2 linked regions of the Homo sapiens genome follow. The protein of the gene in region 2 interacts with the protein of the main gene of each other region in a biochemical or structural test. Each region holds a gene or a part of one and is shown on either strand. Other genes may lie near its edges.

Region 1 (2,559 bases), on a different chromosome or scaffold from region 2:
GCTGGGTGCGGTGGCTCACGCCTGTAATCCTAGCACGTTGGGAGGCTGAGGTGGGCAGATCTGCTTGAGGTCAGGATGGGACCAGCCTGGGCAACATGGCGAGATCCCGTCTCTACAAAAAATACAAAAATTTTAGCTGGGTGTGGTGGCGTGTACCTGTAGTCCCAGCTATGTGGAAGGCTTTGGCAGGAGGATAGCTTGAGCCTGGGAGGTTAAGGCTGCAGTGAGCCAAGATTGCAGCACTGCACTCCAACCTGGGTGGCAAAGTAAGATCCTGTCTCAAAAGAAAAAGAAAAAACAAAAGAGACTTTCGTCTATCTTTTTGAAGAAAAATTCTTGTAACCAAAGGTAACTATAAGTAAAACATTGCTTCACGCTCTTTCATGCTTTCAGAGAAAAAGGTGGCAAGGGGAACACGTCCAAGACTCCTGGGTTCACATCTGCAGGGTGTGTACACTAGCCACACAGCAGAACACAGACAGACTTGGAAGCTTGTCTTCAGAGACACTAAATATTTTTTTCCTGGTGAGAGAATCAGTGCCCTAACAACTACCTCTGTTCCACTTTCTTCAGTAGCCATCGACCCTCTGATGAGGATGCCCCCTCCAACAGGCACCGCCAGGCAGCCCTGCCTGGAGACCCAGAGGCACCGAGTCACATTTGCTCTGCACACCTGGCTCTCGCTTGATGTGGGCCTGTGTGCTACAGCCCGGAACACAAAAGAAGACACCCATGCAAATACCATTAAAAGTTTATTGTTTTATTTCAATATTCAGGAACAGTGTACACTTTCCGTTCAGCCATCGTCACAGCACGTGCTGTGTGGGTGCGGCCACGTATGGATCGCAGAGCCGACCTCAGCTCAGCGACGCAGAGTGCTTCTGCTGAAAAATTTGGAGGTTTGTGTCTGGAGTTTTGTTCTTTGTAACTCTCTCATCATCGAGGCTATATATTAATAGACATGGTATTAAGCCCACACGAAACATTCAGAATTAGAATTGGATTAAGAAGACGCGTTTTGGCATCACGCTGACTACTCCTCATCTCCGTCCTCGGGGAGGGTGATGCCAGCGTGGGACTCTTTGGAAGGCCTATCAATCACAGGTGCGCTAAAATCAAAAGGTGGGTCAGTAGGTTAGGGAGGGAGGCGCGAAAGGAGATGCCAGCGGGTGTTAAGAAGGATATGGTCAGAAGAGCTCTTTGTCTCCATCCACGGGGCCGTCTGCTCAGCCCGTGTGTCTCGGTGAGTAATTCGGGAGCAGGTGCACGCCTGTGCCTACTCGCTACCACGCGTCTTCTGGGAGGAAGTGAATGAGCCGGTTATCTTCTCAGGGAGGGTTAGTGCTGGCCACTGTGCACTGCCGCTGCCAGCACGCCCGGTCACAGCCAGTGTCTATGGGCGACTGGCGCGGCTGCGAGGCTGTCTAGAGGACTCCTACCCTTCTGCTCTGAGTGCGCAAGTCTTCCTGGACTCTCCGGCTGTGGGCTGTGGTTTGGAAACGAGGTTGTTCATAGAGGCTGCTCTGGGGCCACCATGCAGGGCAACGGTGACGTCCAGAGGCCACCTGCTTGACATCTCCATCACCAAATCTCCAGGAAGACCCTGTTTCCTATGTGAGGCCATTGCCCAGCCCACGTTTGCCTCCTTTTCCTCCCTCTGCCACACGCGAATTCAGCTAATTGGGGTGTGTGGGCAGCCACGGCCTGGGGAGGTGGCCCCCTCTCTGTGCTGCCCCACGTTGGACTCTAACAGCTGCCCAGCCCGCATGTCACATACCAAAAGCTCCCACATGTAGTAAGCCACTCCTTGACTGTCTAATCCTGTTAGGAAAAATGAAGTCTACTTTAGGAGGTGAGAGAAGGACAGGAAAAAAAAACAAAGGAAGCTTGGATGTCAACAGTCCTCTCTGCCGCCCACGTCCTCTCTGTCTCTGCAGCTGTGTGCCTCCATGGCAGTGACCAGCAAAAGCGCAAGGGTGCCGCAGCCACGGCGAAAAGAAAGTCCAAGGGTGGAGGGGTGAACGTGGAGGGACGTCTGTGCACCTGGCCCCCTGAAGACCCACGTGCGTCTGGGGGCACATTGCGGGGGAAGGAACGTGATCTTCACACAGAAAGGGACAGTTTTAACCGTTTTCTGTTTTCATGTTCTCATTTAACTGTTGGCCGGAAATTGCCGGTAGGCTGCCGTGGCCTGACCCTACTACGTGCACAACTCCGCAGGCATTAGGGGAGGGGTCATCTGCTCTAATTAGGTAACAGGGGCAAGTGGGATTAAAGTTTTAAGGCAGTTATATTAAGAAGCTGAGGACAGGATTCCGGAACCAGGTGGGTTTTCAGCGTCTAGCCATGGGTGATCCAGAGCGACTATCTCTTCCTCCCTGAAAAGGAAGAGAGAGGAGTTAGGACGAGAGTGCCGCAGGGTCCTCCCACACCAGCATCCCCTCTTCTGTGGTCCCGGGTGGATGCTGAGCCATTGGGTGTCTCTCTCATCTGCTAATAGAAATGGCACCCCGGAGAGCTGGTCTTTTCATTCCATTTCTCCCGACCTCCCTCAGCAAA
Region 2 (3,833 bases):
AGAAGTGGATGGATTCAGAAGGTCTTAGACCCTTTTTGTTATTAGGATGACAGCATTATTTGTTGTTGTTGTTGTTTTTCTTAAAGCAGCATTTACCCATATCCTCCAGTTATTCCTGGAGGCAGGGAGATGGACTGGCTAACTTTATGTGTAGCCTTTGATTCTGTGTTTCTAGAGAAATGTCTGTGGTTTTGTACCCAAGTGAATCTGGCTGCATTCCCTTTGGCTGTATAGATGTACCCCTTAGGAAACAAGGACAGCTTTTCACTGTTACAGTTCTGCCACCTTGTTCTAACTGTCATATGCAAGCTATCTCAATATAATATACCAATTTTTTGTGTATATAACATAAGCACACTATGTACTTTGCTCAAAATGTTCTGTTACTGAGTACATATAATCTGTATACACATCAGCCGTACATAGGAGCAAATTGTATATTTCTTCTGTAGTCATAGAGGGAGTAGATATTAGGATTGTTGTTTTCTGCTCCTGAAATTTTTGTTCTGAGTTTTAAAGACATTTAGCCATCTGTTTATGACTTTAAAGTGAGTGTTCAAAGTGGAGGCTCTGAATGTATGTATCATTACAGATATATTGAAAGGGTATTGTCAATAATAAATGGCTACTATACATCTTTTTCGGCTGTTTTCTAACTTTTTAAAATGTGTAATGTAAGCAGGTAGTATTTTTAAGGAAGTGGAAATATATCTAATGTTAACTATGGATTTTTACCTGGATTATGTCTTTTAGGAAGAGACTTTAGGGTGCAGAGTTGCTTCAATTGCATTTAAAATAATCAATTTTTCCTTAAAGCAGCTTTTACCTGTATCCTTAATTTATAGATGATATGTATTTATTTCATATTATATTATAAAATCATTTTAATAAAAATGAAATGTTGGATTCATCGTTGAACTTCTTTTTAGAAATATAAATTAAGTTGAAATTAGTAGCTTTCAAAGTTTTATCATATATATTTTTTCCAGCAGATATAGTAGATGCTTACAAATATTTTAATTCACCTAACTCTTCTCTAAGAGAATGAATTGTATCTTCTCCCACCCACAGGAGACTGACTGGTTCCAGAGATTTCTTTTCACAAGACTTCAGTTTTCTGGCTGCAGTATAAGAATTAAAAGGGCTTTAGAGTTGGAAACATATATGCATATTAAGTTATTTAGCAGTTTAAACATATATACTTTTATTCAATATGAACATGAGAGTAGCAGTTGGAACAAAGACTCCATTTGTCAATTTTCATTCCTTTTATTTGTAGTTGAAATCCTGTTGGGAGTATGAGTAAATTTAAATATAAATAAAATGCAACATTCAATGTATTTCTACTCAGGAAACCAGTTACAATGTTATTAAGTTACAATTGCATAAACTAACCTTATAGGCCTACAGCAAATGCTAATACATTTTGACCTTGGTTTGTACTTGAGGGTGTTTTTTGGTAATTGCTGTCACCCTGACAGCCAACAAGGGGGACTCGCAAAGGAAAAGCGTATGAGAGCGATTTGCAGGGGCTCAGACTGCACATTGCGCTGTGGTGTTTTGATGTGTTGCCTACCTGTTTTTATTACTACCCACCAGCTCGCTATCAAGTAGTCCTTGACCTGGCTATCATTGATAGGTACACTAGTCTTGAGTAATTGGTACTTTAACTTATCAACTACTTTTAACCACTGTGTAAAAATGAAAGCAAGAATAGTACGTTAATAATTGCCAGGCATTCCCTTCTGTACTGTACATACAAATAGAATTTTTACACATGTGCCTGTATGTATATATAGGTTGAGTATCCCTAAATCAGAATATGTGAAATCTCAAATGTTCCAAATTCTGAAACTTTTTGAATGTGAGGTGACATTCAAAGGAAATGTTCACGGGTACATTTCAGATTTCTGGTTTTCGAATGAGGGGTACTTAACTAGTTTAGTATATAATGCAAGTATTTTAAAATGAGAAAAAATCCAAAATCTAAAACATTTCTGGTCGCAAGCATTTCCGGATGCTCAATCTGTACAGTATGCCTAATTAATTCATCTTCTTATAAAATTAACTTCTATATATAATGAGTTAAAGTTAAGAAAAATATTATTTACTTGTACAATCCATTGCCTCTGTACTTATGAAAATTGTCCAGAAAATCAGTCTTTGCTGACTAAGCTTTTTTGCATATGGACATACTCGGGCATGTTGGCTTTATATATCTTATCTTTATATACCTCAGCTAAAAGCTAACACCCTTTATATTTAATTTGGTATGCTAAGCTTTTGGACCGGCAGGCTTGTGGCCCATTACCAGCGATGGTATTCTCCAAGGTGTAGGGGATAGCAGAGGGCAGGTCTTCCTTTTTTTTCCTGAGAGAGCACCGTAGACATGTTTGGAATAGTTCATCACCACTGTAAAGCTCACAAAGAAGAGACATGCTCAAAAAATCACAATTTATAAGCAATAATGTCTTACATAAAATAAAGGTGATTTTTTTTTCCCTTTCAGATTTTGGGGTAAGTGCGTTCCTAGCAACAGGGGGTGATGTTACCCGAAATAAAGTAAGAAAAACATTCGTTGGCACCCCATGTTGGATGGCTCCTGAAGTCATGGAACAGGTAAAAAAACAAAAAAAGTGACTTTTTGATGGACATAGTACAATCGTACAGATCATTAATATGCTAACATTTCATTTGTATCTAGCATTTTAGTAGAATGCATAATGTAACTAAGATTTAATTCTCAATTGCTAGCTAATTAGCAAACTAACGTGAAAGTTATACATCAACAGCTGTGGATTTCTGACATGACATGGACTTGATGATGTGTAACATGCCTGCTGTATGATTGTGTTTTTTTCCTGCTTTCTTTCTTAGGTGAGAGGCTATGACTTCAAGGCTGACATGTGGAGTTTTGGAATAACTGCCATTGAATTAGCAACAGGAGCAGCGCCTTATCACAAATATCCTCCCATGAAAGTAATTACAATTGGAAATACTACATCGGGGTTGAAATGTGATTGGACGGAATCTGTTTTCTAATTCTCTTCAACATCTTCATTCTTCTCTTAGACCCGAGGAGAATTAATGGAGGAACGCAGCCAAGTTGAACATTGTCTGATTTTCTCAGTGGACAGAATAGGACAAAAGTAGCATAATTCCCAGCTTTGAAGCTTGCTTTATAGTCTCAGCACAGAGTTAAGAAAATAATGTTATCAGATTGGTTGATGGAGGTTGATAGCTATGACAAATGCTGGTCATTACTCTTTTGATAGCAGAACAACGCCAGGTTCCCAGAGAATATCTCAAAATAGATTATAGTGATGTCATCTCTGCAAATGGGTTTCCCAGATTTTCAGAGCTTTTTTTTTTCTTTCTTTTTAAGTGGACTACAACATTTTTACCCCTGCTCTTATAGTGTAATGTTGGCAACTGATCTGATATAAGTGAGCCACAGTGTTTTTAGGATGCTATTTTCACGTTTCTGCTCTTCTTTTAACTGGTTTATACCTCATTATTTCTCTTAGTTCTGAGATAGTGGTATCAGGGCTTATTTACCCAACTGGATTTTGTTTTGAGGCTGAAATAGTTTAGTGAAATTATAATGCTATTTTACATAGAGTATGGTCTATGATTGTTTCATGGTTACTGGAAAAATTTGGGAGGATTTATTTTAAAAACCCAAGAATAAAAAGTGAGTTTTACTGATTAAAAGAAGTAGTATACTCATATTGTAGAAAGTTTGGATGTGCAACTCAGACTAAAGAAGAAAAACAATCATCCGTAATCTCATCAACCAGACAATCTCTACTAAGGTTTCAGTGTAATTCATT

What was found.
Region 1: of the proteins of STK39 (region 2) and MBP, one has a biochemical effect on the other in vitro, tested with the Homo sapiens proteins (one study listed by BioGRID).

What each region holds. Positions count from the first base shown.
Region 1 is NC_000018.10:76,978,094-76,980,652, forward strand, and holds the end of MBP (Golli-MBP), read right to left. Parts: exon of another isoform or gene 2,379-2,559; coding exon 2,334-2,378; 3' UTR 740-2,333; downstream 1-739. UniProt on the Homo sapiens protein: The classic group of MBP isoforms (isoform 4-isoform 14) are with PLP the most abundant protein components of the myelin membrane in the CNS. They have a role in both its formation and stabilization.
Region 2 is NC_000002.12:168,139,435-168,143,267, reverse strand, and holds part of STK39 (STE20/SPS1-related proline-alanine-rich protein kinase), read left to right. Parts: intron 1-2,509; coding exon 2,510-2,619; intron 2,620-2,877; coding exon 2,878-2,979; intron 2,980-3,833. UniProt on the Homo sapiens protein: Effector serine/threonine-protein kinase component of the WNK-SPAK/OSR1 kinase cascade, which is involved in various processes, such as ion transport, response to hypertonic stress and blood pressure.